Linked DNA regions of Homo sapiens. The protein of the gene in region 1 purifies or fractionates together with the protein of each later gene. This does not show direct contact. Each region holds a gene or a part of one and is shown in the gene's direction. Other genes may lie near its edges.

The links. The genes of interacting proteins can lie anywhere in the genome.
Region 2: the proteins of PTPRM (region 1) and CIP2A purify together in Homo sapiens (affinity purification with mass spectrometry, with the first as the bait; one large-scale study listed by BioGRID). This does not show direct contact.

What each region holds. Positions count from the first base shown.
Region 1 is NC_000018.10:7,570,244-7,573,900, forward strand, and holds part of PTPRM (receptor-type tyrosine-protein phosphatase mu isoform 1 precursor), read left to right. Parts: intron 1-3,657. UniProt on the Homo sapiens protein: Receptor protein-tyrosine phosphatase that mediates homotypic cell-cell interactions and plays a role in adipogenic differentiation via modulation of p120 catenin/CTNND1 phosphorylation.
Region 2 is NC_000003.12:108,568,912-108,572,568, reverse strand, and holds part of CIP2A (protein CIP2A), read left to right. Parts: intron 1-2,961; coding exon 2,962-3,180; intron 3,181-3,657.

The sequences.
Region 1 (3,657 bases):
GTTTTGTTTTTTGTTTTTGTATGTTGAGGAAGTTAATTCTGAATGCTAGGAGTGGCATTGACACATTTCTTTTTTATGTTTCTTCCAGAAATTGTAGTAATTGGCTGCTTTTCACTTGACATGGGAATAAATTTTAGAGCCAGAAGAGCTAGATTGTAAGCTCCCTGAGGGCAAAGCCAATTTTCGTTTTCTTCTGACTTTCTCACAAAACATTTCTCATAGATCCTTAGATGTCACAGGCATTATTACTATTTGTTGAATAAATCACTAATGAGAATCTTGATCATTTGCACATATTCAAATTGTGTGTGAATGGACCAATATATAATAAAATGGAGGGAGAGAAGTGATTGTTAAAAGTTAGACTTGGCTTGCCTTTTCCACACTGGGTTCTCTTTAGGCCAATGGACTAATCATGAGGGTTTATAAATATAATCAGTCAAGGGTTTTTGTATAACTCAGACATTATCTACACAAGGCACTCTGCCCTTTGCTTTCTGCAGTGCTCTCCTGTCCTCTTTTGGAATGGGTTTGGAATTGTTAAGATTGTTAATTAACCATTTCTGGAGGTGGACTACATGTGATTTGGATACCAGACATCAGAAATAGAATGCTAAACTTACTGGAAAAGTATTAGGATTTGGGCCTGTGATGACATTGCTTACTTATAATGATGGATTTCATTACAAAATTGTGGGTTTTTTTTTTTTTTTGGAGATAGAGTCTTGCTCTGTCGCCAGGCTGGAGTACAGTGGCACGATCTTGGCTCACTGCAACCTCCACCTCCCGGGTTCGAGCGATTCTCCTGCCTCAGCCTCCCGAGTAGCTGGAACTACAGGTGTGCACCACCACCACCGCCAGCTAATTTTTGTATTTTTAGTAGAGACGGGTTTTCACCATGTTGGCCAGGATGGTCTCAATCTCTTGACCTTGTGATCTGCCTGCCTTGGCCTCCCAAAGTGCTGGGATTACAGACATGAGCCACCGTGCCCAGGCTGAAAAATTGTTTTTTATCATTACCGTTTCTAATTTGTTAGGCAAAATAATGGAGGTTCACTTTATATCTTCTAGGTCTTTAGTGTTCACTAAAAATAACTGGTAAGATGGTATATAAGTAAGACATGAGAAAGAAAGTTAAATTATTTTACCTTTGTTGGAAATTCCCTTTTGCATGGTGAGAAACCAACGAGTTGGCAAGTTGTTCCTCTTTGACCCAATTTCTTAAAAGCCAAGTTGCAACATATATTATATAATACAATGAAGTGTTTAGTTCTACCTTATAATGGTTTTGATGTGTTAAGTTCTGCTAAGCAAGCTTTGGTTTGCAGAAATAGAAATATAGACTTAGCTCTTTGTTTCAGCTACAGTGGTATTTGAAATATATTAAATGTTAACATAACCTTGTGAATTTGGGACTCGTGGAGAAATTAATTTTTTAAAATATTTTAAGGATGTTTGTGGGAAAACAGCTGAAATCTGAATAAAGCCTGTAATTTAGTTAGTAGTGTGGTACCAATGTTAATTTCTTAGCTTTGGTAATTCTGCTCTGTGAATGTAAGATGTTAACATTAGGGGGAAGCTGGGTGAAGGGTGTACTTGCACAGTTTGTATTGTTTTTGCAAGTCTTCTATAAATCTGAAATTTTTTCAAAATACAGAATTTTAAAGCACCCTTTGCAAAGAGTGGTAATATGTTTGTTTAGCAGTTAAGTTTATTTTTTCTTTTTCAGATAACTATAGTCATAGCATTTTACATTTTCAAGGTGCTTTCGCTAGATTGAAAATTGATAATGAAGAAAATACTTCAAATTTAAATCAGTGAGCATGAAAGAAATATGCTAAGAAATTACTATAACATTCTTAGTGTTCTGTATATGTAAAGAAGAATTGCTTGAGCATAATAAATTGTTCCGATCTAGAAAATTATAGGTTTTAGTCTCTCATGTTTTCAAAGGGTTATTTTTACAGATTTTAAGAAAAGAATCTATTGACATGTAGTGATATATGGATAAGTGTGTATATAATTTTGGTAATTCAAAATGAATTTTCTTTAATGAACAAGTAATTTGAATTATGTCTTCAGATTATATAAATTCTTTATAAATGAAGCATAGCCTAGCCTTTAGATTTGGTAAAAGTTGGTTTCAGAATTTAAGCAATTCTGTGACAATTCTAGAAAAGTCAATACCTTTATTTAAATTTTTCATAATTCTCTAAGGATTGTAATATATTCTAGGAATTGTGAGGCTGTATACAGTAGAGGAACTATGTATTAGATTAAATATTGTTTTCTTTCAATTTTTGTTTTAGATTTCATTAAGTTTCTAGAATGAGCATGTATTATCTAAATATCCCAAGGCTTAGTTTTCATTTAGGGAATCAGGCATTTTAATGAGTTTTATGCTTTTCAACAGTGAAACATTTTTCTTAGGGGTTATGTCCACCATGCATTTTACTTTAGTTCTGAGATTCTTCTCTTTGAAAACCAACTTTCCTATAGTTTCACTTTTTAGTGTGCTTACTATCTTTATGAATATAACATGCATGTTAATAGGCTTATTTTATAAGCGAGGGAAGGTTTAATTATTAATGTCTTTCCAACTCACAAACATTCTAAAAAGGTACAAAATAATGTAAATCTTGCATTATAAGAGGATGTTGCTTTTTTGCTTCCTAAAATACCGCGGTGGTTTTCAGTTTAGTCATCAGAAAGCCTGAGTTGACACTGTAGCTCTGAAAAACCCAGCAGAGAAAAATAAGTTGGGCTGCCTTGGGTGGAGAGGAGGAAAGATTTAGTCACCAAGCTTCCTAGTCTGTAGTGCCCCCATCATTGGTGAGGAGGCTGGCAAGGCCAGGGCATAATTAAGGGTCTGGGAGTATGTGAGAGAAAAAGACAAAAACAGGATGAGAAGAGAAGTGTTGTGTACTCAGGTGTGGGATGTGACAAGCTCTAGAGATCTTAGCAAGGGAGGGTCACTCCCCTTGTGCCCTCTTAGCTATGAAGGAGAAACACATGGAAAGTTGAAGGAGGGCCATGAAGAGTGGCAGTTGTGCAGGTAGATCACAGTGACATCCTGCCTCAGTGACGTTAGGTGGCTCTGGGGAGGGCCTGGGAAACTGCACCAGTGTTGATGGTGAGCTAGGTTTTAATCTGTGCTTCTCAAAACCTGCTGTCCACGGGGAGCATCTGGAGGCCTCCTTTCAAAGGCTGCTTCCTGGGGCCCAGCTGTGGTGATTCTGATGTCCACGACAGAGGTCCCCCAGCATCCCTGGGTGGTCAGGGTTTGTAGCCACAGTTGAAGAAACGTTGTCCTGAAAGAGGAGGTTTTTGTTTTGTTTTGTTTTGTTTTGTTTTGTTTTTTTTGAGACAAAGTCTCGCTCTTGTCCCCCAGGCTAGAGTGCAACTGAGTGATATTGGCTCACTACAACCTCTGCCTCCCGGGTTCAAGCGATTCTCCTGCCTCAGCCTCCCGAGTGGCTGGAATTACAGGTGCCTGCCACCACGCCTGGCTAATTTTTGTATTTTTAGTAGAGACGGGGTTTCACCATGTTGGCCATGGCTGGTCTTGAACTCCTGACCTCAGGTGATCCTCCTGCTTCCACCTCCCAAAGTGCTGGGATTACAGGCATGAGCCACCACGCCTGGCCCTGAAAGAGG
Region 2 (3,657 bases), on another chromosome or scaffold:
TCTAAAGACAGTGCAGTATTTTGTCATAATGATAGACAGCCCAGTGGAACATAATGGAGCAGAAACAAACCCACAGCATATGGTCTTCAGATTGACAACAGTAGAGTCTTAAAAGTATGGTCATTTCAATAAATGACGCTGGGTCAATTGAATATACATATGGGGAAAAACTGAAATTTGACCCCCTTCCTCATACCAAATGCAAAAATCAGTATAAGACAGGTTGTAGATTTAAATGTGAAGAGTAAAAATAAGGAACGTTTTAGAAAAAACACCTAAAGAGTATCTTCATGGCCTTGGGGTAGACAATGATTTTCTTAAACAGGAAACAAAAGCACTAACTATACAGTAAGAAAGTCGATAAGTTGGGCTACATTAAAATTAAGTTTCTATTTATGAAAAGACCACTAATAAAAGAATGAAAAGTCAAAGAATGGGAATAGATATTTACAATGCATATATCTAACAAAGGACTCTTATCCAAAATATATTATTTTTCTACATTGTATGTATATATCCGAAAAAACACAGAGCCGAACAGATACTTGAGCAAAAAAGTTGAATTGGTCAATAAACATGAAGTGATTTACCACTTTATCAATCTTAAGGGAAATGCAGATTTAAATGGTAGTATCATACCATCTGACACCCACCAGTTGATTAAAATGAAAAATAAGGAAAATAGCAAACATACTTTAACTCTCATTTAGTACTTACAGAACAACCAATTATGAAAACTGGTATCTATTAATACTGGGCATATGTATAAACTACGACCCAGAAATCTCACTTATAGGTATTTATCCCAAAGAATTGTTTACATGTGTACAAAATGTAGTACTGCTCCTAATAGCTAACAATGATAACCCAAATGCCATTAACAGTGGAATATGTTCATTTTGGGAAAGTCATCTAGCTCTGCACTAGTAATTAGTTTTTTTACTTTTATATGTGTACATTAAAAGAAAACTAATGTACATGGAAAGCTATCTGCTTCTATGTTTATAACGGACATATGGTAAGATACACAAACAATTGGTAACATTGCTTGCCTACAGGGTTTGTCTTTTGAACCATGTGAATGTATTACCTATTCAAAAATAAATATAGTCATGCATTACATAATGACATTTTAGTCAATGACAGACACAGACTTCTTATTGCCTATGACATTATGGCCATTCTAACATGGTGGTGCAATGCATCACATGTGTTTGTGGTGATGCTGGTGTAAACAAACCTACTGAGCTGCCAGCTGTATAAAACTATAACACATATTAAGATTGTATACAGTACATAGTATTTTGATAAACGTGTTACCACTTATTCTTTGTTATTTTAGAGTGTACTTCTACTTATAAAAAAGTTAACTGTAAAACAGCCAGGCAGGTCTTTCAGGAGGTATTCCAGAAGAAGGTATTGTTGTTATTAGAGATGACAGCTCCCTGTGTGTTACTGCCCCTGAAGACCTTCCAGTGGGACAACATGTGGAGGTGGAAGTGGTGTTGATTACCCTGGCCCTGTGTAGACCTGGGCTAATGTCTGTGTTTGTGTCTTTGTTTTTAACAAAAAAAGTTTAAAAAGAAAAAGCCTACATTTTAAAAATAGAAAAAACTGATAGACTACAGATGTAAATAAAGTATTTTTGTATAGCTGTACAGTGTGTTTCTCTTACTACAAAAGAGTCAAAAACTTTAAAAATGGATAGGTTTATAAAGTTAAAAAGTTCTGCTAAGCTAAGGTTAATTTATTAGAGAAATTTTAAAAAATAGTGTAGCTTAAGCATACAGTCTTTATGAAATATACAGCAATATACAGTAATGTCCTAGGCCTTTACATTCACTCACTACTCAGTCATTAACTCACCCAGAGCAACTTCCAGTCCTGCATGTTTTGTTTATGGTAAGTGTCCTATACAGGTGTACCGTTTTTGATCTTTTATACTGTATTTTTCTATGTTTAGATACACAAGTACTTACAATTGTGTTATAGTTGCCTACAGTATTTAGTACAGTAATATTCTGTACAGTTTTGTAGCCCACGGGCAATAAAGGGACGTAGTAGGCTCTACCATCTAGGTTTGTGTAAGTACACTCTTACGATGTTCACACAACGGAATTAATGATGCATTAAGCAACATATGCATCACTAAGTGACACATGACTGTACTACAGTTTATTAAAGATTATCATTTGTTATAGTAAATGCTAATGGACTGGATTCTTTTAAATTCAGATACTATCAAGTTGATTAAAACACAAATCCCAATTATATATCATTTGTAAGAAACAGACTTTTAAAAAGTTGGAAATAGAGAGACAAGGAGATCTTAAGAAATTTTTTTTTTTTTAGTGATAAGTTGGTAGTATGTGAAATGAGGTGGAATTTATCTTAACATCTAATAAACTGGTTGATGGGGGATGTTATGGTATAAGGCCCAGTTTATAAAGTAGAGGAAAAATGGGGTACAGTAGGAGAGCTAAGGGTCATAATGCCAACCGTATGCAAACAGTGTGGAAATAACCATCCTGAAGGTTTTATATTCTATGCTACAGTATCCTTTATAGCGGTTATTGAATTTTAGGATTATAACAAGTATTACTAATTCTAATTTTATTTTTTAGGGTTTTTTTGGTCATTTATAAACAAAACAGGTTTCTGTTTAAAAATAATTTAAGTACTATGGAAGGAGTGGGAGGAGTTTAACGTTGGCTGAAGTTGACCTTCCCTCTGAGGTTCTCACAGTCCTGCTTATCAGGAGTAACCACCATTAATAAGTTTATTTTATAATCTTCTAGAACCTATTCACACATTTGAAAAATAATATTGAAAGAAAAAACTTAAGTTTTGTTTTAGAATATTTTCTTTAAAATATGTAGCATTTTCAGCTTCATCATACACTTGCTTTGTATATTAAAGTTCTGTGAAATTGATGTTTAATGAACACTTTATATTGCACAGGTTTTAGAATTACTTCTTGCCTTCTGTTCAGTGACTCAGCTGCGCCATATGCTCACTCAGATGATGTTTGAACAGTCTCCACCTGGCAGCGCCACTCTGGGAAGCCATACTAAATGTTTAGAACCTACTGTGGCTCTACTGCGCTGGTTAAGCCAACCTTTGGACGGATCAGAAAACTGTTCTGTTTTAGCATTGGAGTTGTTCAAGGAAATATTTGAGGTAATAGGATGACTGACAGATTGACTTTTCTACTTTTGTGACTCTCAGTTAACAATTTGTCTTCAAAAACATTCTTTGTAAACTTACAGTTCATACACTTGAGGAAAACATCTCAATTACTAACAGTCATACTAGACTCGCTAGGTTTTTTTCTGCCAGTCATATATATTAGTGTTTTCCTTTTTTTTCACTGAGTAGTGTGTATGTATATATATATATAGTGCTCATTTCAGTGTAATAAGTAAAGATATTAAAAAGATTTATATAATTTGTTGCCTGACTACTGGGGATAGTTACATTGTCTCTCCATTGCAATAGATGCCATCTACCAAGTTTAGTAGGCCATTGAATGGACAATAGAGGCATATTGGATTCAGTCAGTGAAATGGAGTAGAGCATGCCAGATAATGTGCTAGGCACTTAAGATACAGACAAAACTCCACATTCTGGTAGATCTTACTATCTGGGCAATTTAAT